Linked DNA regions of Homo sapiens: region 2 is linked to region 1. Evidence: fine-mapped expression QTL. A gene starts in region 1. The other region holds a variant in brackets. All regions are shown on one strand. Distances are between the middles of the regions. Region 1 holds the start of APC2 (APC regulator of Wnt signaling pathway 2). Region 2 overlaps MISP (mitotic spindle positioning).

What was found.
Region 2: its variant is fine-mapped to the expression of APC2 in cerebellar hemisphere (GTEx, PIP 0.95).

What each region holds. Positions count from the first base shown.
Region 1 is chr19:1,442,621-1,453,804 of GRCh38, reverse strand. APC2 (APC regulator of Wnt signaling pathway 2) reads right to left here and starts at 3,684. Exons shown (of 15, transcript NM_005883.3): 1 at 3,467-3,684; 2 at 663-821; 3 at 468-558; 4 at 194-374. The coding sequence starts at 803. RefSeq lists enhancers at 1-529, 530-1,161, 1,162-1,795 and silencers at 3,638-3,837, 6,581-6,875, 7,525-7,574, 8,035-8,134, 8,185-8,574.
Region 2 is chr19:762,227-777,802 of GRCh38, reverse strand. It overlaps MISP (mitotic spindle positioning), which reads right to left. Exons shown (of 5, transcript NM_173481.4): 5 at 13,485-14,302. The coding sequence ends at 14,213. Among named protein-coding and RNA genes, the nearest start is that of LINC01836, 13 kb to the left of the region's middle. The variant C/T (reference allele first, on the strand shown) is at 10,191.

The sequences.
Region 1 (11,184 bases):
GGGGGAGGGAGGCCACGTGGGGACGAAGCTCCGAGGTGGGCGGGGTTGTTCGGTGGGCAGTGCCATATGCAAGTGGGTGGGGCGTGTGAGGTGTGGGCAGAGACATATGCGGGTGGGCGAATTAGAGGGCAGAGCCCGCTGGGGACCGAGTCATGCTCCAGCTGCCCGAGGCTGGGTTCCCACGCCCACTCACCGTTCCCGGTCCAGTTCCTCCAGCAGCCGGATGGTGGCCCGGCTCAGCTCCCCAAAGCTGTCCTTGGAGGGCCCGGAGCCGTGTACTGGGCTGCCCTCGGGGGTCCGGGCGGCAGGCTCCGGGCCCAGGGTGGGCGGCTGGAACTTGAGGTTGTACAGGCTGGTGATGTCCATCTGTAGGGCTGGATGGGCGGGGACAGGGCGGAGGTCAGCGGCCCTGCCTGCCTTTCCCCCCAGCCTCCCCCACTCCCTCTGCGGGTGGCCCCACCGCTCACCCTTCAGCTGCTCCAGCACCTCCGTCTGCCCCGAGGACACCAGCACTCGGGCCTCCTGCTCCAGTTTTCCCTGTAGGTGCTTCAGGACCTCCTGCAGGGGCGGGAAAGAGGGCGGGAAGCCATCAGCCACTGCACTGGGCTGCCGGGGGGCACCACCCCGGGACCCTAGCCCACCTCCTCCATGTAGGCCCCCACCTTCATGCCCGACGTCTCTGTCTCCAGCTTGGACAGGTGGCTGGAGTTGTCCCTTAGCTCCTGCCTCAGGTGGCTGTTCTCAGCCTTCAAGGCCTCCACCTGCCTCACCAGCTGCTCGTAGGGCGCCACGGAGCTCGCCATCTTCAGCTCCTGCAGCGTCTGGGATCACAGGGTCAGAGGGTTCAGCTGATGGTCTGGGGAGGGCGCGGTGATGCCTTCCGGACAGACGGCCCCTGACCTAAGCCCCAGCCGTCCTGCCTGATCCTGGGTTGGGGGGGGTCTCAGGCAGGAGTCACTGGTGTGGACAAGTACAGGCCCACGTGGTGGTGGCCAGGCAATCCGGGGCGCAGAGGGGCAGGTGGAGTGAGAGGTGGCCCCAAGGGGAGACAGAGGGGCCAGCAGACAGACGTACAGACAGCTGAACGTCCAACTGACCAGTCGACCGACAGACGATGGGTCGGCCTCTCCTTCCCAGCCCCCAGGACACATCCTGACAGCCGGACAAACACACAGACAGCTGGGACAGCCTAACCCAGCAAGCCGACTGGCCAGCCCAGCACCCCCAGGCTCACAGCCAGAGAGGGCGACAGACAGACAGACAGGACCCTCCCCCATAAAAGCAAGCCTGCCCAGAGGCTGACAGCCAGACACGCGGGGCGGACAGACCACCAGCTGTCCCTGCCGATGGACAATGAAAACACCACGAAGGCCAGTGGGTGACACCTAAGCTGTGCAGAAACGGCAGGACAGATGGACCCAAGCCCACCGCCATCACCGCAGCAGCCCCACGACCCTCCATCGGTGGCTGAGCTCAGGGTGGCTACCTGTGTGGCCCGCACCCCCTGCGCAGCCTTCAGCTGGTCCCTGCTGGCCCCGGCAGCCCCTGCCCCATCCCTTGACTCTGCCAGCGCGCTGGCTTCTTTGTGCCTCTGGCCGTCTTCTGGCTCTGGCCTGGCCTCCTCCCTCTGTCCAGCTGGCCGGCGCCTCCTCCCTCGGCTCGGCCCTCCCGCCGGAGCCCCCCTTCACGCCCCCCTTCCCTCTTTGTTCCTTTCCCATCAGCGCTCGCCTCCTCCCTCCGCCTTTGTCTCAGACGCACCAATGGCAGCCCATCCCTCTGCCACCTCCCCCTGCCAGCCTGAGCCCCTTCCTCACACCGGCCCTGTCCAGCCCACCTGCTCCTCCCCTCCCTCCTCCACCTGGCCACACACATGTATTCACCCGTCATTTGTTCTCTGACCCCCAGGTGCCCCCTCATCCCCTCCCCTCCCACCCAAATGTCACCAGGGGCACGGCTGGGACAGGAGTAGGGGTGGGGGCTCAGTCGCAGGTGGGAGGATGGAGTCGGGCTGTCCCGTCCTGCTCAGGGGACGCAGTGTGTGGCTTGCCATGTCATCCGGCTCCTTCTTGGTCTGTCCTGAGTCTCAGGGACCACCATTTGGCTGTTCCCAGAGGGAGAAACGAGGCCCTAGGAACCGAGGTCTGGCACCCAGATGCTGCCCCAGAGGGGCTGGGAAGTCCAGGCTGGAGGCCCGACAAGACCCGCCCCTCTCTGGCTTTGGGTTGCCCCTCTGAGGAACCTGCAGGGCAGGAGTGCCCAAGGGCAGGGTGGGAGGGGCACAGGGACTGGAAGTCAGGTGGCAGAGGCTGGCACCTCCCACCCTGATCCGATGATGTCCAAGGCTGTTCAGGTCTCCAGTGGGGATCAGGCTTGGGGTTGGGGGCTACACGCAGGGAGACCCTGGGGTCTGGCTCGAGCCCCATGTTCCAGCTGAGGTCACCATCCCATGCCCAGCCAGGTGGAAGGACCAGATGACGTGCAAAGCAACACATGTCTGCCTCCTGCTCCCCAAACCCAGGCCTCCCCCACGTGGTTCTTCTCAGCTGACCGAAGCCAAGCCTCAGACACCTTCCCTCTCCCCACATTCGGTGGTCATTTCTGCATCCTCATCAGACTAAGCTAGTCCCTCCAAGCTCTGCCCAGCGGGATCATGCCTCCCCCAGCTCCTGACACCCCTCTGTGAGGACATTCTGATCAGCCTCTTCCTGGCCTCCCACAGTCCCCCATGCACAGCCAGAGGGAGCTTTAAACGTCACAAGTGAGATCCCATTTCTCCCATGCTCAAACACCTTCCATGGCTCCCCAGTGCCCTCAGGATACGCTCCGACTCCTCCATGTACACCGCGACTCACTTAGAGGCTGGAGGCTCTCTTCTCTCAGGCCTTTGCACGTGCAGTTGCCCTGCCTAGAGCACCTTTTCTAAGTCCTGCCATCCCACACAGTGCAGCTTCTTCCACGAAGCTCTTCTGCCTACTTTCACCCCCAGGTTGCATCGTGTAGCCTCCTGGGGGCCTTCCTGAGCGATCACTCCCTGAAGGCACCATGACTGGGGGCTGGTCTTATTGAGCGGGCTGCATTTCAGGGGAGGGAGGCACAGGTATGGGAAGCCAGGCCCAAAGGGGCCTTTCTCCTTCCTTTAATCCAAACCCCCTCTTTCCAGAGAGGGAAACTGACACCCAGAGAGGTGCAGCAACACCCCCGAAGACACACCACTGGCCTGCCCATCCCTTCCTCCGATCACCTCAGGGAGGTCCGGATGGTGAAGCCCGTGAGTGGGTGTGTGCGCAGGACCGGCTGCAGAAACGCTGACGCCCAGCTCACCGGGACTCAGTTTCCCCTCCAGCTCCCACTCTGGGGAAATGGAGGGTCCAGAGTCTGTGCTGACGGGCAATGCTGAGAGCCAGGGATGGAAACCTCGACGCGAGGCGGAGGTCGCGCCCCTGCCCTCCTCCCCGAGGACACACACCCGCTTACGTGCAGCTGGGCTGGCGGGGCGCCTGGGTCTGGGGCCTCCTCCCTCTGCGCGGCTCCGCGGGCCCCACCGGAAATCCCGGCCCGGGGTGGCCTCGGAGCGCGCGGGCTCCGGGGTCTCCGCGGCGCGGGCAGGGGCTCCGGGGCGGACAAAGCCCGGTCCGGGCCTGGGCAGGCGGCGCTGCCGCTCCTAGCGCTGGGCGAGACCACCGCGAGCGGGGGAGGATGCGGGATGAGGGATGCGGGTGAGACAGCCAATGAGGGCGCGGGAAGACGGGCTGGTGCCATGGCAACAGCCAATGGCGGCCCGGGGCGGGGACCGGCGTCGGCCGCGGGGCGTCGGGCCTCCGCGCGGGCTCAGGGGCCGTGAGTGCGGGGGGCGAAACCCCCCCGAGGGAAGGGGGTGCCCCGAGGACCAAGATTCCTGTGTCCCGCACTTTATTGCAGGGTGCAACGGCCTCTTAAAACCTCCTGCGTCTGGATTTGCAGAATTGGAGAGTAAAACATCAAATCCTGGATGTTACATCAGCATCTTGGCGGGGGAGGGGTTTCCAGGGCAGTGGCCGGGCTGGGGCCAGGCCTGCACCCACCCCACAGGTCCAGCCTGGCCTGGTGCAGGTGCGTCAGGGTGGGACAGGGTTCGGGTCCAGGCTGGAGCTCCCTGAGGGTCCTGCCTGGTGGGGAGGGGAGAGGGGAGGAGGGGCAGGGCCACTGGGGAGCACCTGGGACGCTGCATCTCCCCACATTTCTCCCTGTCTCCCCAACGGAGCGTCAGATCCTCCTGTAACTCCGTTGCTCTTCATGTCCCTCTCTCTTTCTGTCTCCCCCTCTGTTCTCTGTCTCTCAATCTCTGTCTCCATGTGTCTCTGCCCCTGGTGGGTGGCACACTTAATTCACCCTCACGGACCGAAGGCCAGAGGAGGGAAGGGCCAGGGGTCCCAGGAGTCGCCATCTCCAGGTGTCCTGGATGCTCCATGAGTCCCTGGAAGCCATTTGAAGGTTTAACACACAGAGCCCGTCCCTGCAGCTCGGAGCAGCCCTTCCTGCTCTGGACACAGACTCACAGCACAGAAAGGGAGGCGACTGGGGCCAGAAGAGTGATTTTTTTCCGTGCTGGGCAGGCAGGGCAAATCATTCGCCGCTCAACCCTCGGTTTCCTCCTCTGTAAAATGGAGAGGAGGCGGAAGATTCTGCAAGGGCTGGTGCAGGGAATGATAGGAGAGGGTGGGAAGGTCCGAGTATTCAAGGCCCCGTAGACAAAGGCAAGGGAGGACCCGTGCTGTTTCCTGTTGGGCCTTGAGCTGAAGACCCGAGGGCCTTGTCCCGGGCCAGCACTGCCAGGGGCTGAGAGCCCTTCGGCCTGGCTGTCTGGGAGCCCCCAGAGCTGGACGCAGCTGTCCCCACTGGTTGGGTCTGGGGAGGCAATGCAGTGGGCAGACACAGGGGATCTTTTCTTTTTTCTTTTTCTTTTTTTTCTTTTTTTTTTTTTTGAGACGGAGTCTTGCTCTGTAGCCCAGGCTGGAGTGCAGTGGCACGTTCTCGGCTCACTGCAAGCTCCGCCTCCCAGGTTCACGCCATTCTCCTGCCTCAGCCTCCCGAGTAGCTGGGACTACAGGCGCCCGCCACCACGCCCAGGCTAATTTTTTGTATTTTTTAGTAGAGACGGGATTTCACGTTAGCCAGGATGGTCTCGATCTCCTGACCTCGTGATCCACCCGCCTCGGCCTCCCAAAGTGCTGGGATTACAGGCGTGAACCACCACGCCCGGCCTTTTTTTTTTTTTTTTTTTAGATGGGGTCTTGCTCTGTCCCCCAGGCTGCAGTGCAGTGGCGCCATCTCGGCTCACCGCAACCTCCGCCTCCTGGGTTCAAGTGATTCTCCTGCCTCAGACTCCTCAGTAACTGGGATTACAGGCATGTACCACCTTGCCAGCTAATTTTTGTATTTTTAATAGAGAGGGGGTTTCACCGTGTTGGTCGGGCTGGTCTCAAACTCCTGACCTCATGATCCGCCCGCCTCGAAGGGGATTTTTTTCTGGAGGCTGGAAGGCTGCCCTGAGAAGTGAACAGCAGTGATCAGGAGGAGAGGCGTTCCAGGCTGAGGGAAGATCAATGCATGCTTGGGACACAGGGGGTGTCTGGTGGAGCCATGGGGTAGGGCGCGTGGTGGGGTTTGACAGGTCAAGCCGGGGCAGAGCTGGGCGAGGCTGAAATGGGGTTGGGGATGCAGAGCCCAGGGCCCTGGCTTCAGCTCAGCCTTGTTGTCCCTGTGTCCCCCTGGGCATGTCTCTCTCTGGCCTCGGTTTCCAGTCTTGTTTACTGAAGGGTGGGTTGGATGATCCCTGCCTCCCCCAAAGAGGAACTAAGTCCCACCTCCCTGTGTAGTTTCAGATGTCTCAGCTCCCCAGGCCCCCATCAGGCAGGGGTTTGGGGGATCCAAGGTCAGTCCTGTCCTTGTATACATGGGGAAACTGAGGCCTGGGCCAGGGAACGTGTTGCCTGAGTTCACCTGTGCCAGCCAGGCCTCCGGAGTGACACTGAACCTCCCTTCTTATCCCTCTGGGGGTGGCCAGGGCCTGGAGGGCTGAGGGTACATGGGGGCTGAGACCCCAAGACAAGATGCCCTTGGCCCCAAATCTACAAAACATTATGTCCCTGAACAATCCCCCCCCACACACTAAAATCCTCGACCCTGTAAATCCTTGAACCACAGCCACACTCAGACATCACCAGACATTTCAGAGCCTCAAGAACCCCCCACAGCCCCCTAGGACTTCAGGAGACTGAGAGAGGTCTCCCCCTTCTCCCACTGCAGAACGCAGGGCCTAGCCCAAGACCCCGACCTAGGCTCCTCCCTGGGGTCCTCCACGCCCCCTACTGCTGCTGGGCTAAAGGGGAAGTTCCATGAAATGCTCACTCCCCCACCCCTGTCCTGTGACACCTCCCCGCAAGTCCGCAGCCTGGCACACGGCTCACTCTTGGAGTGTCTTTGAGCCTTCTGAGTCTGACCTCGAGCTGTCCCCGCCCCCTTGATGCCTCCTCTGTGCCAGGGGCTAGAGGCAGAAACAGGGGCGGCCCCCATCGGGAGCTGGGTGGGGACAGAGAAGGCACCAGGTCATCGCGGGAGGATAGAGACGGCCCGCCGCCGGCTGGGTGGCCGGGCAGAGCCCTGACCGGTGAGGAGGCCACCGGAGGTGGGGGAGGGTGGGGTAGGCCGGTCCAGGCCGCGCCCTGAAGCCTGACCGCCGCTATGGGCCTCAGTTTCCCCGGCGGCGAGTCGGCAGACGTGCGCCTCCGTCAGCACCGCGGACAGCTCCCCGGCCCCCGCCCCGCGTTCTCTTGCGGGCGCCTTAGCTCCGCAACGAGGCTCCGGCCTCGAAGCGTGACCTTGGGCTCCCCGCTGCACCCCCCAGCCTCAGTTTCCCCTCCAATGAGGGATGTCACAGCCGCGAAATTCAGACGATTCCGGAGGCTGGAGAAGCGCTGGGGTCGGGAGCGGACGGATACGAACAGCAGCGGCGGCGAACGTCAAAGCAGGCCATACGCTCGCGCCCAGAAGGGGAAACTGAGGCCCAAAGAAGCGCAGGGCGTGGCCCAGGCCCCCACCCTGCGCAGGGCCGAGCCTCCGCAGGATGCCCCCGCAGCCGCCCCCGCCGCCCCAGCTGGCGCAGCCTCCGCGTCGGCGCAGTGAGGAGGGGTCCGAGGGTCTCCTGCAGAGGCCGAGGGCTGGGCTGGGCGAGCCCTGCGCTTGCGCAGACCCGGGGCTGGGGGTCGCAGCGGCGCACGAGAGGGGCTTCCATCCCCGCCAGCCTTCCGAGGCGGTTTCCCGGCAACGGTCTCTACGGCGACGGCACTAGACCCCCGACTCTGCAGCCTCCGCGCGCTCGCCCCATGCGCCCCCCGCCGCCGCGCCCGCTGTTCCCGCGGTGTGGACCCCGCCCCGTTCCTGCGCGGCCCGGAGCCCTCCCCAACGGCTCGACCCACGCGCCCTACCTGGTCCCCGAAGAAGGCCGAGTGCAGCAGGCTCAGGAGCCCCAGGAGCCCCATGGAGCCGCGGCCGCCCCGGACCCGCCGCGCCCCGCCCCTCGGCGGCCAGGGTGGGGGTGCGGGACGCGAACGGGGCCGCCCTGCGCCTGCGCGGAGAGGGGCGGGAGGGGTCAGTCCGCGGGCCCGGGGCGGGGCTCCTCCCGAAAGGGGCGAGGGCGTACCGTGGGGTCTGGGGGTGCTCGCGGGGGCTGGGGAGTCTCGCGGGACCGAGGCTGCGGAGGGGCGGTGGGAGATCCAAGGATGGGAGAGAGGGGAGGGGACTCGCGTGGGCCGAGCGGCGCCAGGGTCCGGGTCCGACCACGCTGGGGAGTTCGAATGCGGAGGAGGCTGGGGGGGCCCGAGGCGGCGGGGAGGAGGCCGGGTGGGGGTGGGGGCACGAGAGGTCCCACGGGGAATGGGGGTCGCGGGGGGCCAGAGGCGGCGTCGCCATGCGGCTGTGGTCCGCTGCCCGCGGACGGTCACCCTGCGGAAGCTCGGAACCACCCCCGAATCAGCCCGGCTTGGCGCGCTGAGGTTCATTAGTCATTCAGCAAACATCACCTGCGCGCACAAGGCTTGCTGGGCGCCGAGCTGGGCGCGCGGGGGGCCGCCGTAAGGGGGCGACACCGAACGCGGACATTCATGCAACAAGCATTTATAAAGCACCTACTGTGTGCTGGGTCCCCCTGCACTGAACAAAACAAAATCCAGGCCCTTGGGAAGCTGACGTGAACGAGGGGACTGCAGCGGGCTGGGAGAGACGCCAGCGCGGCGGGCAGGGCATGGGGAGCTGCTGGGGAGGCCGAACAGCCCTGGGGAGTGTTGGGGGAGAGTGCAGCCCGCGAGGGCAGTGAGGGCTGGGAGGCCCCGGGGGGCAGGTCGCGCAGGCCCAGCGGGAGGTGGGAGCCACCGCGGGCTGTGGACAGAGCAGGGCCGCGCCCGGCTCCAGGCTCGCGGGCGCCCGCTGGCGGCTGCGGGGAGAACAGGCCGTGGGCGGTGCCGGGAGAGGAGGGCGGAGGCGGCTGCGCGGGTCGAGGGCCGGATGATCGGGCGGAAGATGCGGCCCGGGCAGGATGGGGGCTAAGAGGGGTGTTATGAATTGTGCAAAGTCCCTGGAAACCAAAGAACGAGCGGCCGGAGAAAGGGGCGCCGCTTTAGCAGGGCGGCGGGGACAGGCCGCCTCCAGCAGGTGCCTCAGCTGAACCCTGGAGCGGGGACGGAGCCGTGCGGCTGCCGGGGAGGCTTCGGGGCCACCCAGGACTCCTCCTTCAGAAGTCAGGGGAGGGCGCCGAGTTCAGTGTAAACTGCCGTCCAGGGGGGAGGCCGCGGGGATGTGAGAAGCGCCGGGAACCAGGACAGGGCCTGAAGGCAGCTGACCCGCAAGCGCCGGGGCCAGACCTGAACCTGATGAGGACGGAGCTGTCTGTCTGAGACGGCACAGATGGGGCCGGGCAGGTCTGGGAGAGTCCATGCAGATTCTGGAGCGGGGTGTGGGACCAGAGGGTAGAAACAGAAGCGTGGGGCCGGGCACGGTGGCTCCCGCCTGTAATCCCAGCATTTTGGGAGGCCGAAGCGGGTGGATCACTTGAGGTCAGGAGTTCGAGACCAGCCTGGCCAACATGGCAAAACCCCGTCTATACTAAAAATACAAAAAATTAACCGGCGTCTTGGCGCATGCCTGTAGTCTCAGCTAGTCGGGAGGCTGAGCAGAATCGCTTGAACCCAGGAGGCGGAGGTTGCAATGAGCTGAGATTCTGCCAGTGCACTCCAGCCTGGGCGGCAGAGCTAGACTCCGTCTCAGAAAAAAAAAAAAAAAAAAAAAAAAGAAGTGCGGATATGGCCAGAGAGGCCTAAAGACAGAGCCTGGGCCTTGAGTTGGGAGTGGCCCTCGACAGTGGCACCCTAGTGCTAGTTAGAGGCTCCCACCCCACCTCCTGGACACCCCCCAAATTCTTGTGGACCTAGGGCACCACCTGGCCACCAAGACATGTGTCTCTCTGAACTGGGGGTATCTTTTTGCTTTAAATACTAATACATATTTTCCCTGATCACACATGCTGGATTCCAACTGCAGAAAACCAAGGGAAGTACCCATTAGCAGCCACGTGCTAGCCAGCAGGGGCGTGTGCAGGGAGGGCTTTTATGGACAGGAAACTTCCCGTAAAGGTCCAGACAGTAAATTTTCAGCGTCTGCCTGGCAGAAGTAATACAGGTATGAATGGGCACAGCTGGGTGCCAGTAAAGCTCTGCAAAAGCGAAGTGAGGCCCAGCACCCATTCCTATTATGCTTTCCTCAGGGAGGGCCCCCTGGGGCTTGTTCCCAGCTAGCTGCCTCATGATGGGCGCGGCCCCACACATCTCTGTGTCATTTGCTCTGCAGATAGACCTGGTAGCTCAAAAGCTCTGTCATTTCCATTTATTTATTTTTTTCTTTTTTTGAGACGGAGTCTCGCTCTGTCCCCCAGGCTGGAGTGCAGTGGCGCGATCTCGGCTCACTGCAAGCTCCGCCTCCCGGGTTCACGCCATTCTCCCGCCTCAGCCTCTCCAGTAGCTGGGACTACAGGCGCCCGCCACCACGCCCAGCTGATTTTTTGTGTGTGTTTTTAGTAGAGATGGGGTTTCACCATGTTAGCCAGGATGGTCTTGATCTCCTGGCCTCGTGATCCGCCCGCCTCGGCCTCCCAAAGTGCTGGGATTACAGGCGTGAGCCACCGCGCCCGGCTCCATTTGTTTTTTTTAGACGGGGCCTCGGTAAAGACTTCAAGTGTGCACCATGGTTTCCGGCACTTTTGATTTCTAAGGCTCAGGGTTGAAAACCATGTTGCAGATAAAGCTGTTTCAGTGGGACATCCACTAATTTCCCACTTTGCTTATCTGAGGCGAAAAGCACCTAACACCTCAGCAATTTCTTTTTTTTTTTTTTTTTTTTTTGAGGCGGAGTCTCCGTCGCCCAGGCTGGAGCACAGCACTTTCAGAGGCCGAGGAAGGCGGATCACCTGAGGTTGGGAATTGGAGACCAGCCTGGCCAACATGGTGAAATCCTGTCTCGACTAAAAATACAAAAATTAACCAGGCGTGGTGGCGTGCTTCTGTAATCCCAGCTACTCGGGAGGCTGAGGCAGGAGAATTGCTTTAACCTGGGAGGTGGAGGCTGCAGTGAGCCGAGATCGTGCCACTCAACTCCAACCTGGGCGACAGAGCGAGACTCTGTCTCAAAAAATAAAAAGAATTCTGAATGCTGACAACCGAGACTACAATGAACCCTGCCTACACATGCCTTCCCTCCCTCTCCTTGAGCTGGACCTGGGGTGGGCCTTCGAAGCTGGGTCCCGTACAAGCTTCTGCTGTTCACGCTGAAGTGAACCTGGCCAGTGCTGCCCAGAGACCTCCGGCGGCCACCTAGCAGCCAGACTGTAGCAGGATGAGCCACAGACAAAACTCCTGACACTGGATTAAAGAAGAGGTTTTTATTCGGCCGGCAGCATCAGCAGACTCGCGTCTTAAGCTCCCCGAAAAAGAGATTCTTGGCCTTTTTAAAGGCTTACAACTTTAAGGGGTCCACGTGAAAGGGTCGTGATACATCAAGCAAGTGTGGAAAACGTGAGTGGGGGCTGCATGCATCAGCTAACACAACAGAAAGTTTTACAATGCTTTTTCGTAGTGTCTGGAATTTACAGATAACACAAGT
Region 2 (15,576 bases), 680 kb after region 1:
ACCATCCTGGCTAACACGGTGAAACCCCGTCTCTACTAAAAATATAAAAATTAGCTGGGTGTGGTGGCGGGCGCCTGTAGTCCCAGCTACTTGGGAGGCTGAGGCAGGAGAATTGCTTGAACCCGAGAGACAGAGGTTGCAGTGAGCCGAGATCACGCCATTGCACCCAGCCTGGGCTACAAGAGCAAAACTCCATCCAAAAAAAAAAGAAAAAATATATTTATATATATATTTATATATATTTATTTATATATTTTATATACATCTATTTTATTTTTTTTTTACTTTTTTGAGACAGAGTCTCGCTCTGTTGCCCAGGCTGGAGTGCAGTGGTGCAATCTCAGCTCACTGCAAACTCTGCCTCCTGGGTTCACGCCATTCTCCTGCCTCAGCCTCCCGAGTAGCTGGGACTACAGGCACCCGCCACCACGACTGGCTAAGTTTTTGTATTTTTAGTAGAGACGGGGTTTCACCGTGTTAGCCAGGATGGTCTCGAACTCCTGACCTTGTGATCCACCCGCCTCAGCCTCCCAAAGTGCTGGGATTACAGGTGTGAGCCACCGCGCCCGGCTGAATTTTTCTTTTTTTTTTTTTTTTTAAAGACGGAGTCTTGCTCGCTCTGACTCCCAGGCTGAGTGCAGCAGCACAATCTTGGCTCACTGCAACCTCCACCCTTCTGGCTAGAGCAATTCTCCTGCTTCAGCCTCCCGAGTAGCTGGGATTACAGGCACCTGCCACCATGCCCGGCTAACTTTTGTATTTTTAGTAGAGATGGGGTTTGACCATGTTGGCCAGGCTGGTCTCGATCTCCTGACCTCGTGATCCACCCGCCTCGGCCTCCCAAAGTGCTGGGATCACAGGCATGAAGCACTGCGCCCGGCCTGTCTTCTCCTTTTGTTCGTTATGAATCATGCCGCCTCGAACACGCGTATGGACCTGTGTTTTCCTTTCTCTGGGTAGAGACCACGGCGTGGAATGGTTTGGTCACAGAGGAACCCCCAGGCTGTTTCCGCAGCCTGACTGGTAGCTCTGACGTCCCAGCCAGGCTGTCCGGGGCCCAGGGAGAACGAGGTGGAAACTTGCAGATGCTCCCTGGGTGGAATCATTGATCCGGACGATGACTTATTCATGACAGCAGCTTGGTGGGGCCAGAAATTTCCATGGATTCCTGTTATAAATAGGGCTGGTGTGAGCACCTGGCTGCAGGGCCGGGCGGGAGGTTTGTCCTGTGATTGCTGGAGCCCGGGAGTTGGAAGCTGCGGTGAGCTATGATCACGCCACTGCACTCCAGCCTGGGCGGCAGAGGCAGATCTCATCTCTATTTTAATTAATTAATTTATTTTATTTTATTTTATTTTTATTTATTTATTTATTTATTTATTTATTTTGAGACGGAGTCTCGCTGTGTCCCCCAGGCTGCAGGGCAGTGGCGCGATCTCGGCTCACTGCAAGCTCCGCCTCCCGGGTTCACACCATTCTCCTGCCTCAGCCTCCCGAGTAGCTGGGACTACAGGCGCCCGCCACCACGCCTGGCTAATTTTTTGTATTTTTAGTAGAGACGGGGTTTCACCATGTTAGCCAGGATGGTCTCGATCTCCTGACCTCGTGATCCACCTGCCTCAGCCTCCCAAAGTGCCGGGATTACAGGTGTGAGCCACCGTGCCCGGCCCTATTTATTTTAATATTTATTTATTTATTTATTTTGAGGCAGAGTCTCACTCTGTCACCCAGGCTGGAGTGCAGTGGTGTGATCTCGGGCTCACTGCAACCTTAGCCTCCCGGGTTCAAGAGATTCTCCAGCCTCAGCCTCCCGAGTAGCTGGGACTACAGGTGCCCGCAACCACGCCTGGCTAATTTTTGTATTTTTAGTAGAGACGGGGGTTTCACCATGTTAGCCAGGATGGTCTCAATCTCCTGACCTCGTGATCCGCCCACCTCGGCCTCCCAAAGTGCTGGGATGACAGGCGTGAGCCACCGCGCCTGGCCTCAGCGTATTTATTTATTTATTTATTTGAGAAAGTGGGTCGTTCTGTTGTCCAGGCTGGAGAGCAGTGGTGCAATCATAGCTCACTGCAGCCTCAACCTCCTGGGCTCAAACAGTCCTCCCGCCTCGGCCTCCCGAGTAGCTGGGATCACAGGCACCTGCCACCACGCCGGGCTAATTTTTGGGTTTTTCATTACAGGGTTTTGCTATGTTTCCCAGGCTGATCTTGAACTCCTTACCTCAGGCGATCTTCCCACTGCGGCCTCCCAAAGTGTTGGGATTACAGGCATGAGCCACCACTTCTGGCCCCCTGTTTTCCATTATTTTGAGACCCCCCCAAATATTTAATGCCCAGATAAGTGGTGACCCGCCCCCCCCCGTGGACACACACTGCTGGCTGCCCTTCCAGCACTCACTGACCCCAGGGAAGGCTTGGGAGGCCCCAGAAGTGGATCCCGGGGAGGGGACTTGGGCAGCCCCCAGCTCAGGCCACCAGCATGGTCTGGGGGAGTGTCTGTAGGGGTACAGTCCTCACTCTGGACTGCTCCGCCACATGCATGAGTCACCTGTCCAGGCAGCACCCAGAGTGGACAAAACATAAACCATGGCCTCCCCATCTCCAGCACCATCTGTCTGGCTTAGCAGGAAACAGGGTTTGCAACCTCAAATTGAGGGTTCCAGGCCAAACCCTCAGATTTGCTCAGAAATATCCTAACATGGGCCGGGCGCGGTGGCTCACGCCTGTAATCCCAGCACTTTAGGGGACCAAGGCGGGCGGATCATGAGGTCAGGAGATCAAGACCATCCTGGGTAACACGGTGAAACCCCGTCTCTACTAAAAATACAAAAAATTAGCTGGGCGTGGTGGTGGGCACCTGTAATTCCAGCTACTTGGGAGGCTGAGGCAGGAGATGGCATGAACCTGGGAGGCGGAGCTTGTAGTGAGCCGAGATGGCTCCGCTGCACTCCAGCCTGGGTGACAGAGCGAGACTCTCAAAAAAAAAAAAAAAGAAAAGAAAAGAAAAGAAAAAAAGAAATATCCTAACATGGCCAGGCACAGTGGCTCATGCCTGTAATCCCAGAACTTTGGGATGCCAAGGCAGGCGGATCTCGAAGTTAGGAGTTCAAGACCAGCCTGGCCAACATGGTGAAACCTGGTCTCTACTAAACATACACAAAATTAGCTGGGCGTGGTGGCACCCACCTGTAATCCCAGCTACTCAGGAGGCCGAGGCAGAAGAGACGCTTGAGCCTGGGAGAGATTGTCCCACTGCATTCTAACCTGGGTGATAGAGTGAGACTCCATCTAAAAAAAAAAAAATTGCATTTTATTTTGAACAAATGAGTTTGTCCAAAGACACCATTAAGAGACTCAAAAGGGGCCAGGCACTGTGGCTCATGCCTGTAATCCCAGCACTTTGGGAGGCCGAGGCGGGTGGATCATGAGGTCAGGAGTTCAAGACCAGCCTGGCCAACATGGTGAAACCCCGTATCTACTAAAAATACAAAAATTAGCCGGGTGTGGTGGCAGGCGCCTCAGAAAAAAAAAAAAAAAAAAAAAAAAAGAAGAAGACTCAAAAGGAAAGTGCCAGACTGGGAGAAGGTACTAGCTAGCAGTGCATAATGTAATCAAGGACTCAGGTCCAGAATATATAAAGAACTCCCACAAATCAACAGGAAAATAAACAAACCAATTTGTTTTTGTTTTTTTTTTTTTTTTTGAGATGGAGTCTCGCTCTGTCACCCAGGCTGGAGTGCAGTGGCAGGATCTCGGCTCACTGCAACCTCTGCCTCCCAGGTTCAAGCGATTCCCCTGCCTCAGCCTCCTGAGTAGCTGGGATTACAGGCGCCCGTCACCATGCCCAGCTAATTTTTTGTATTTTAGTAGAGACGAGGTTTCACCATGTTGGTCAGGATGGTCTCAATCTCCTGACCTTGTGATCCGCCTGCCTTGGCCTCCCAAAGTGTTGGGATTACAGGCATGAGCCACTGCGCCCTTATTTTTTATTTTGTTTTGAGATGGAGTTTTGCTCTTATTGCTGAGGCTGGAGTGAAGTGGTACAATCTTGGCTCACTGCAACCTCCGCCTCCCGGGTTCAAGCGATTCTCCTGCCTCAGCCTCCCGAGTAGCTGGGACTACAGGCATGTGCCATGGCACCCGGCCCTAATTTTTGTATTTTTAGTAGAGACAAGGTTTCACCATGTTGGCCAGGCTGGTCTCAAACTGCTCACCTCAGGTGATCTGCCTGCCTTGGCCTCCCAAAGTGCTGGGATTACAGGCCTGAGCCACCTGTGAATTTATTGAGGGTGTTGGGAAATACCAGCCACAGAGGAGGATGCCTTGGTCACCTACTCAGGCCAGGATCACCCACCCCCTCTCCGGTGAGAGGCTGAGCACAGAGAGGTGGAGAAACTCACCCATAGCACCGAGGCCATCAGGGGACAGCCTGAGCTCTAACCTGCATCCAGGGGCCCTGGAGCTGGTCTCTCCCTGGCAGATCCCCAGAGCCGGCGCTATGCTTTAGGAGCCAGGAGCCAGTCCTCAAGCTCTTCAGGACTGTCCGGCCCCCAGCTGGCCATGCCTCGCTGCTCCTCACGGGCTGCCGGGCAGGAAACCAGAGCTCTGTTCTCGGATAGGGCAGGAGGCTGAGGCCAGGTGGGTGGGGCACCCAGCCCCTCACTCCCAGGCAGCCCCCTTCTCCATCCCTCTATCCCGCCAGCATTTGCTCCACACCTGCCCCGTGCGGGACTGGGGCTGGGCACAGCCTCTGGTGGCCTCATTTGGCTTGGGGTTGGTGTCCTGGGGACCCTGACTGGGGGGCCCTCCTGCTTGCCTGCACAGCCGGAAGTCTGAATCTAGGCCCCACGGGCCCCTTCTCTGGTTGAGACTCCATCAGCTGCGCAATCCAGTTTCCTCAGGCGGCTCCCTCTGGGCCTCAGTTTGCTGGTCTGTGAAATGGGAATAATAAACATTTTTTGCTGGGTGCAGTGACTCACACCTGTAATCCCAGCACTTTGGGAGGGTGAGGCGGGCAGATCACCTGCAGTCAGGAGTTCGAGACCACCCTGGCCAACATGGCGAAACTCTGTCTCTACTAAAAATACAAAATTAGCCGGGTGTGGTGGCATGTGCCTGTAATCCCAGCTACTCAGGAGGCTGAAGCAGGAGAATTGCTTGAACCCAGGAGGTGGAGGTTGCAGTGAGCCGAGATCTCACCACTGCACTCTAGCCTGTGCGACAGAGCAAGACTCCATTTCAAAAAAAAAAAAAAAATGAGCCCATGATTTTGTTCTCTCCCCTGGTCACCCTAAGTAGAGATGGAGTCTCTCTACGTTGGCCAGGCTAGTCTCCAACTCCTGAGCTCAAGTGAGCCTCCTGCCTCAGCCTCCAGAAGTGCTAGGATCACAGGCATGAGCCACTGAGCCCTGCCCAGCTATTTATTCTGCCATATTTACTGAGCAACAGCTGTGTGATGAGGGGAGCGTTCACCAAAGCCTTGAAAGAAGTGAAGAAATGAACCCAGTGGGTACCTAGGGAAGGGAAACCAGGCAGAGGACATGGCCGTGCAAAGGCCCTGGGGCCGGACCTCACCTGGGGAGGCAAAGGCCCTGGGGCAGGACCCCGCCTGGCAAGTTGGAGGAACAGGGAGGAGGCCCGTGTGGCTGGAGCAGAGGAAGGGGGGAGACAGGGAGGAGGGAGAGTAGAGAGGGGACTGGGCAGAGGAGGGGGAGACAGGGAGGAGGGAGAGGAGAGAGGGGACTGGGCAGAGGGGGAGACAGGGAAGAGGGAGAGGAGAGAGGGGACTGGGCAGAGGAGGAGGGGGAGACAGGGAGGAGGGAGGGGGAGACAGGGAGGAAGGAGAGGAGAGGGGACTGGGCAGAGGAGGAGGGAGAGACAGGGAGGAGGGAGAGGAGAGAGGGGACTGGGCAGAGGAGGAGGGGGAGACAGGGAGGAGGGAGGGGGAGACAGGGAGGAAGGAGAGGAGAGGGGACTGGGCAGAGGAGGAGGGGGAGACAGGGAGGAGGGAGAGGAGAGAGGGGACTGGGTAGAGGAGGAGGGGGAGAAAGGGAGGAGGGAGAGGAGAGAGGGGACTGGGTAGAGGAGGAGGGGGAGATAGGGAGGAGGGAGAGGAGAGAGGGGACTGGGTAGAGGAGGAGGGGGAGATAGGGAGGGAGGAGGGAGAGGAGAGAGGGAGGAGGGAGAGGAGAGAGGGGACTGGGCAGAGGAGGAGGGGGAGACAGGGAGGAGGGAGAGTAGACAGAGGAGGGAGAGGAGAGAGGGGACTGGGCAGAGCCTTGTGGGCTGCACGGAGGACTTGGGCTTCTACCCAGAGGGAAATGGGAGCCATGGAGGGCTGTGGGCAGAGCAGGGACACCCCCAGTCAGCCTCACAGGCGCCCTCTGGCTGCTGTGGAAGAGCCACCGCACTCGGCCACTTCCGGCTAATTTTATTTATTTATTTTTATTTTTATTTTTGAGACGGAGTCTCACTCTGTCGCCCAGGCTGGAGTGCAGTGGCTCGATCTCGGCTCACTGCAAGCTCCGCCTCCTCCCAGGTTCAAGTGATTCTCCTGCCTCAGCCTCCTGAGTAGCTGGGACTACAGGTGCCCCCCACCACACCCGGCTAATTTTTTTGTATTTTTAGTAGAGACAGGGTTTCACCTTGTTAGCCAGGATGGTCTCAATCTCCTGACCTCGTGATCCGAGGGCCTCGGCCTCCCAAAGTGCTGGGATTACAGGTGTGAGCCACCGCGCCCGGCCCTGCGGGCTCTGTTTTCAACCTCTAAATAGTTGGTCAGGGCTGGGCTCGATGGCTCACACCAGTAATCCCAGCACTTTGTGGGGATGAGGCAGGAGGATCACTTGAGGAGTTCAAGACCAGCTTGGGAAACATGGTGAGAACCCCATCTCTACAAATAATTTTTTTTTAGATGGAGTCTCACTCTGTCATCTCTACAAATAATTTTTTTTTTTAGATGGAGTCTTCCTCTGTCACCCAGGCTGGAGTGCAATGGCTCAATCTCAGCTCACTGCAACCTCCACCTCCCAGGTTCAAGCAATTCTCCTGCCTCAGCTTCCTGAGTAGCTGGGATTACAGGTGAACGCCATCACACCCGGCTATTTTTTTTTTTTTTTTTAAGTAGAGACGGGGTTTTGCCACGTTGGCCAGGCTGGTCTTGAACTCCTGACCTCAAGTGATCCACCCGTCTTGGCCTCCCGAAGTGCTGGGATTACAGGCGTGAGCCACCGCGCCCGGCCCTGTCCAGGCTTTCAAGGAGCACTAAGCAAACACCATCCGGTTACGGGAATGAGAAGGTGAGAGTGGCGGCAGGTGCGTTTTCTCCCTGGCGGGGCGAGGGCCGCGGCTGCATCCTTGGTGTTTGCCGCCCTCTGGTGGCAGCGTGCATCGGCTCCTCTCCGGCTCACACCAGAAAGTCACATGGAAGTCATTGTCTGGTGACAATTCGTTAATTTACTTGGTCAGAACCAACATTCATTCTTTTTTTTTTTTTTTTTTTTTTTTGAGACGGAGTCTCGCTCTGTCGCCCAGGCTGGAGTGCAGTGGCGCGATCTCGGCTCACTGCAAGCTCCACCTCCTGGGTTCACCCCACTCTCCTGCGTCAGCCTCCCGAGTAGCTGGGATTACAGGCGCCCACCACCACGCCCGGCTAATTGTTTGTATTTTTAGTAGAGACGGAGTTTCACCATGTTAGCCAGGATGGTCTTGATCTCCTGACCTCGTGATCCGCCCGCCTCGGCCTCCCAGAGTGCTGGGATTACAGGCGTGAGCCACCGCACCTGGCCTCAACATTCATTCTTATTCCTCACTGATTTTCACCAGGTGCCCGGTGACCCTCATGACGTCCCCCAGGGCAGGGATGTCAATGTGGCGACTTCACTTACAGATAAGGACACTGAGGCTGGGAGAGGGGTAGGCCTTGCCCAGGGTCCCTCAGGGGCATGTGGCAGAGCTGGGAATCTGTCCTGGGCTTGGAGCCTGAGCTCCCAACACCGAAGGAACCTGAGGATGCTGTGTGGCACCTGGAACCAGCTGAGCCTGAAGCTGGCCCTACATTGATGTTTCAGTTACGGGAACCCATAAAGCCTAGTTTTGCCAAAGTCAGTCTGAGTTATGTTTGCTTGTGTCCTCTCCTAAATCTCTTTATTTTATTTATTTATTTATTTATTTATTTTTGAGACGAAGTCTTGCTCTGTTGCCCAGGCCGGAGTGTAGTGGCGCGATCTCAGCTCACTGCAACCTCCATCTCCCGGGTTTAAGTGATTCTCGTGTCTCAGCCTCCTGAGTAGCTGGGACTAGGCACGCGCTACCACGCCTGGCTAATTTTTTTTATTTTTATTTATTTTTTATTTATTTATTTTTATTTTTTGAGATGGAGTCTCGCTCTTGTTGCCCAGCCTGGAGTGCAATGGTGCGATCTCGGCTTACCACGATCTTTGCCTCCTGGGTTCAAGTGATTCTCCTGCCTCAGCCTCCCGAGTAGCTGGGATTACAGACACCTGCCACCACGCCCAGCTAATTTTTTGTATTTCCTAGAGACAGGGTTTCACCATGTTGGTCACGCTGGTCTCAAACTCCTGACCTCAGGTGATCCACCTCCTGCCTCAGCTTCCCAAAATGCCAGGATTACAGGCATGAGCTACCATGCCTGGCCCCTGCAGGGTTAATTAAAATGGAGTTGAGGCCAGGTGCAGTGTCTCACGCCTGTAACCCCAGCACTTTGGGAGGCTGAGGCGGGTGGATCATCTGAGGTCTGGAGTTCCAGACCATCCTGCCCAACATGGAGAAACCCCGTCTCTACTAAAAATACAAAAATTAGCCAGGCGTGGTGGTGGGTGCCTGTAATCCCAGTTACTCCGGGGGTTGAGGCAGGAGAATCGCTTGAACCCAGGAGGCAGAGGTTGTGGTGAGCTGAGATTGCGCCGCTGCACTCCAGCCTGGGCAACAGCGTGAGACTCTGTCTCAAAAAACCAAACAAACAAAAAAGAGAATTCTCCTCCTTTCCCTGGCATATCATGATACACTGAGCCAGGAGGAAACCAGGAAAGAATATGAACTCCCTCCTGCTAGCAGCGAGCGCCAGCGGACAGTTTTGCCCGCCCCAAAGGCCTCTGTGATTGCTGTGATGTCCGCAGACCTTCCAGACACGCTCTCCCGCCCCTGGAAATTTCACTAGGAATTCGTCTAAACCTCTCACAGAGTAACTTCTGGAATGTGTCTGCTCAGCAGGCAGAATTCTGTCTGATTTTCCAAGGGGCTGACTCATTACAGGAATTAAACTAAATCTTTTTTTTTGAGCACAGTCTTGCTCTGTCGCCCAGGCTGGAGTGCCGTGGCGCGATCTTGGCTCACTGCAACCTCCGCCTCTCGGGTTCAAGCGATTCTCCTGCCTCAGCCTCCCGAGTAATTGGGATTACAGGTGCGCACCACTGCGCCCGGCTAATTTTTGTATTTTTAGTAGAGACAGGGTTTCACCACATTGGCCAGGCTGGTCTCGATCTCCTGACCTTGTGATCCGCCCGCCTCGGCCTCCCAAAATGGTGGGATTACAGGTGTGAGTGACTGTGCCCGGCAAACTAAATCTTAAAAAAACAGGACAGAATAGGCCGGGCGAGGTGGCTCACGCCTGTAATCCCAGCACTTTGGGAGGCTGAGGCAAGTGGATCACCTGGAGTCAGGAGTTCGAGACCAGCCTGGCCAATATGGAGAAACCCTGTCTCTACTAAAAGTACAAAATTAGCTGGGTATGGTGGGGGCGTGGGCCTGTAATCCCAGCTACTCGAGAGGCTGAGGCAGGAGAATCACTGGAATTCAGGAGGCAGAGGTTTCGGTGAGCCGAGATCACGCACTCCAGCCTGGGCAAATGGAGCGAAACTTTATCTCAAACAAACAAAAGGACAGAATAATACAAGATGAAAGTGCACATTTTCTTTTTATTTTTAAATTAATTAATTAATTCTTTAGGACGGAGCCTTGTTCTGTCGCCCAGGCCGGAGTGCAGTGGCACAATCTTGGCTCAGTGCAACCTCCACCTCCTGGGTTCAAAGGATTCTCCTGCCTCGGCCTCCCGGGTAGCTGGGATTACAGGCGCCCACCACCACACCTGACTATTTTTTGTATTTTTAGTAGAGACGGGGTTTCACCATGTTGGCCAGGCTGGTCTCAAACTCCTGACCTCAGGTGATC[C/T]GCCCGCTTCAGCCTCCCAAAGTGTTGGGATTACAGGTGTGAGCCACTGCATCTGGCTTCTCTTGGTCTTCTGCTGAGTGAGCAAGTCCCCAAGGACTTGGGGACAGATGTGAGGTGGAGCCCTGAGTGATTTGCTGAAGTGACTTCTGGGGTACAGGGGCTACACTGTTGGAGTCTGCGGTGTGTGGCAGGCTGGGTTATGTGGGGCTCAAATGTCTGAGCCTCGGTCTCTCCTCTGGACAGCAGGGTGGGGTGCCTTCAGGAGCAGGACCATCCGGGCTGTTACTGTAGCTCCTGCTGCCCCCCACCCCGCTCTTGACTGAGGGGTCTGCGGGCAGCGACACCAGATCCCACTGGCTGGGCTCACCCTTGAGCAGCAGAAGCTGCATCCTGCTTCTGAGAATTCTTTATGGCACAGGACAAAGAAAATCATGGCTGAGAGGAGAGCAGGTTTTAAGAATTTAGGATGAGGGCCGGGCGTGGTGGCTCACGCCCATAATCCCAGTAATTTGGGAGGCCGAGGCGGGCGGATCACCTGAGGTCAGGGGTTTGAGACCAGCCTGCCCAACATGGAGAAACCCCGTCTCTACTAAAAATACAAAAATTAGCCGGGCGTGGTGGCGGGCACCTGTAATCCCAGCTACTCGGGAGGCTGAGGTGGGAGAATCCCTTGAACCCGGGAGGCGGAGCTTGCAGTGAGCTGAGATGGCGTCACTGCACTCCAGCCTGGGCGACAGAGCGAGACTTCGTCTCAAAAAAAAAACAAAATACAAAAAAACAAATTTAGGATGAGACGGGGAGGGAGGAAAGCAAAAATCATGGAAAAAGAGAGAGGTCAGGAGGGACAGAAACAGGGAGATAGACGTGGAGAGAGAGGCCTGAACACCAGAAATGGACAGACAGACAGGAGAGATAAAGGGCTGGGGACCTGGTGTTGGGTCTGGAGGATAGATCGTGGCTTCCGATCCAGAGTTGGGGGTGGACATCACTTCCTGCAACGAAGCAGGCGGTTCTTCTTGAACCCAGCGCCCAGGGGCAGTGAGGGGCATTACGGGGTCAGGGGAGACCCTGCCGAGCCTCTGAGAACTGAGGCCGCTGTGGGACCATCTTGCTGGCAGGACGATGGGCAGGGTGAGGTGACCGTCCAACTGGGATGATGTGGGAATAATGCACCCCTTGGTGACGCGGTGTCTGGCAACAGGCCACAGCCAGGGCCAGGGACACTGAAGACGGGGACCCTGGCCGCACACAGAGCCTTGCCCTTTGGTCTTGGCAGGGGGCTTGTGCAGGGCACAGCCTGTGCAACAGTCCTGGCCGGCCCTGAGCAGAGGTGACTGAAGAGTCACGGAGAAGGGGGATGTCGAGATCCTCTGGTGGGCAGAACAATGGCCCCAAAGACATCCCTTTCCTAATCCCCGGGACCTGTGGCCGTGTCACCTCTCGTGGCAGAAGCACCTGCAGATGGGACTGAGTAATGGACCGTGAGACAGGAGAACATCCTGGGTGACATGGAGGCCCAGTGTCCTCATAGGGCCCTCACGAGAGGAGGCAGGAAGGTGAGCCTGAGAGAGACAGGGAGAGATTGCCTTTTTTTTTTGAGACAGAGTCTCACTCTGTCACCCAGGCTGGAGTGCAATAGCACGATCTTGGCTCACTGCAATCTCCACCTCCCCAGTTCAAGTGATTCTCCTGCCTCAGCCTCCCAAGTAGCTGGGATTACTGGCATTTGCCACCAGGCCCAGCTAATTTTTTGTATTTTTAGTAGAGACGGACTTTCACCATGTTGGTCAAGCTGGTCTCGAACTCCTGACCTCAGGTGATCTGCCCGCCTCGGCCTCCCAAAGTGTTGGGATTACAGGCGTGAGCCACTGCGCCCAACCATGTCTGCTGTTTTAAGTCATTAGGTGGGTGGTGATTTGTTATAGTAGCCAGTGGAGGCTCACACATCCTCAGAGCACAGGGACAGAGGGACAGAACATGGGGCATCGGGGGAAGATGGGGTGGCAGACAGTGGAGAAACTGATGGGACTCACCCAGGACTGTGTGTGAGGCCCTCCCTTCCCGCAGGCCCCACGTTTGGTTCTTGGGGTTGGAATAGAATTGCCCCGACATGAAAGAAGTCACCAACTATGGCCACTGAGCCTCCCTCTATGGTCACATAACCTGCCTCCTCCATCAGACTGGGGTCCCCCGAGGGCAGATGCCTCCTCCATCAGATAGGGTCTCCCTGAGGGCAGAGGCCTCCTCCGTCAGACTGTGGCCCCTCTGTGGGTAGATGCCTCCTCCGTCAGACTGGGGTCTCCCTGGGGGCAGGGGCCTCCTCCATCAGCCTGGGATCTCTGTGAAGGCAGATGCCTCCTCCATCAGACTGGGGTCTCCCTGAAGACAGGGGCTCTCCCTCCTCCCTCAGTCTCTGCTCTGCCCAGATGTAGCCCCTCAGCCCCCTTCCCCCGCCTCCCCAGGGTCCCCACAGCCCCCACTGCCCAGCTATTTCGGTTCCACATCTGCCTGCCTGGGCCCGGCGTGGCTGCGCGGTTTTCCCTGAGGCAGCGCAGCGGACACTGAGCAGCCAAGGAGGAGACACTGGCCTAGGTGTAATTAACACCCGCTGCTCCCAGCAGGGTTGGGGGAGCCTGGGGGCCGAGGCCTGCTTTGGGGGGTGTCTGAGGACACGCCCCTGCCATCAGGCACTGAATCCAACGTCAATGGTCCCCATGTGCCGAGAGCTTTACGTAAATTAACTCCTACTGCCCGGGAGCCTGGTCCTATCGTTATCCCTGTGTGTCAGAGGGAAACTGAGGCATGGGGCAGTGAGAGGACCCCCCCCCACCCAAGGCCACACAGCAGGCAGCAGAGCCAGGACTTGGGTCCAGCGCCCACGCCTCTGACCAGTAGGATCTGGCTTCCCTGGATGTGAGCCTGGTATACATGCGGAGCCGAATTAATGACCCTCCGGCCTCCTCTGAGACCAGAGTGGTGAGGGATTCAGCAAATGCTTAATAAGCACCCTGGGTACTGCGATGGACGTGGTGAGACGGGGCTGGAGGAGCCGGGCTGGTGAGGTTGGGCCCCGGGCCTGGTGTTGCTGAAGGTGCCTCTCCATGATCAATTGTCAGTCACTCAACAAGCATCAGCTAAGCACCTACTGCATGCAGATGCTGGCAACCCCCCCATGGGAACCTGACAGCCCCACAGGCTCACGGCCTAGCGGGGTGGAACCTAATGTCGCCAAGAAAATGAAACAGAGAGTGGAGGCCCAGGGGACTTTGTCCGGACCAGGCAGGGACCAAGGCAGGCAGCTCACTCCAGGTTTATTTCAGGGCAGTTTGGGGGTGGGGGACAAAGACCCCCCTCCAGCTCCTAAACTGGGTCACTTTTCTCCCAGGTGAAGGGGACCATCCTCATGGGATCCTATCGATGTGAGAGCTTTGTGTCCACCAGGTGTGGCTGGGTGCACCAAGGTGAAGGGTTTGAGGGCTGCACAGGGACCCCCAGCACTGGGAGTTTGGCCTCCTCCCTCAGACTGGATGGTTTCCCAGGGTTGGAAAGGGGCAGGTCTCCCCTCTCAGCTTGGGACTTCTCAGAGGGAGGAGCTGAGTGTCTCCTCCCTCAGACCCGCAGCCCCTCAAGGTGCTGCGATCTGTGCCACCCTCTTTGACCGGTCCCTCTGCCCTCAGACTAGCGGAAGCAAATTACACCTGAAAGTGGAGGAGCGGGTCTCTTTCTTTCTTAGACCCAGGGCATTTGGCAAAGTCTTAGAAGCAGAAAGAATCAGCAGGGGTCCCATTTCATCCCCAAAAGCTTTAGACCCCAAAGGCAGAAACATTTCTAAAGGAAGATAGAAACGGAAACGAAAAACCCAACAGTCCCAAATGTGCCCATGGTGGGATTGTTGGCAGATGAGCTGTGGTTCTTGGATCCTGGACCTAGGACCCATTTCCTAGGGTGGGGGCTTGGCGATGGTCTTGGCAGTTCCCACGAGGGTCAGGGCAGGGCAGGGGGTGGGCGCCCCATCCCGAGGCTCAGTCATCCTCCTCACTGGCGTAGATGCGGGATTCCCAGCGCTCTGCCATGGCGTTCTTGTGACGGGTCACCCGTATGGCTTCCAGGACCTGCAAAAAGGAGGCATGAATTCCCCCGATCCAGGTCCTACCACACCCCCAAGATGTCTCCTCCAACTGCCAATTCATTAGAGAGGCCTAGAACGGGGGTAAAGTAGGATCCCCTCCTCTGTTTCAGACCCTCTACTCCTAGTAATATGATCAAAGAATATGCTAACTCATGCTGAGCTCCAGGGCAGGAAAAATGTCTGTATTTGGCTTTTTTGTTTGTTTTTGAGATGGAGTCTCACTTTGTTGCCCAGGCTGGACTGCAGTGGCGCGATCTTGGCTCACTGCAAGCTCTGCCTCCCAGGTTCACACCATTCTCCTGCCTCAGCCTCCTGAGTAGCTGGGACTACAGAGGCCCGCTACGGCGCCTGGCTAATTTTTTGTATTTTTAGTAGAGATGGGGTTTCACCATGGTCTCGATCTCCTGACCTCATGATCCTCCCGCCTCGGCCTCCCAAAGTGCTGAGATTACAGGCGTGAGCCACCGTGCCTGTCCAATGTATTTGGCATTTCGGATTCAGCTCAAAGAGGGGTCAGGCGATAGTGGCTCATGCCTATAATCCCAGAAATTTGGTGTGCTGAGGTGGGAGGATCCCTTGAATGCAGGAATTCGAGACCAGCCTGGGCAACCTAGTGAGACTCTGCCTGTACAAAAATAAATAAATAAATAAATAAAAATAAACTATCTGGGTGCAGTGGCACATTCCTATGTTCCTACTTGGGAGGCTGAGGTGGGAGGATTGCTTGAGCCCAGGAGGTCAAGGTTGCAGTGAGCTGGGACCACATCATAGCACTCCAGCCTGGGTGACAGAGTGAGAGCCTGTCTCAAAAAAGTAAAAATAAAAAAAAATAAAAATAAAAAGGAGGGCCACACACGTGTGCCATAAACCGACTGAGGGGGCTTGGCTTGAATAGTCTCAGATGCATACCTTCCTCAAAGAAAGTGCCTTTGGCTGGGTGCGGTGGCTCACACCTGTAATCCCAGCACTTTGGGAGGTGGAGGCGGGAGGATTACCTGAGGTCAGGAGTTCGAGACCATCCTGGCCAACATGGTGAAACCCCATCTCTGCTAAAAATACAAAAATTAGCTGGGCATGGTGGTGGGTGCCTGTAATCCCAGCAACTTGGGAGGCTGAGGCAGGAGAATCGCTTGAACCTGAAAGGCGGAAGTTGCAGTGAGCCGAGGTCAAGCCACTCCACTCCAGCCTGGGCAACAGAGCGAGACTCCATCCTCCCAAAAAAACATTGCCTTGGCCGGGCGCGGTGGCTCGCGCCTG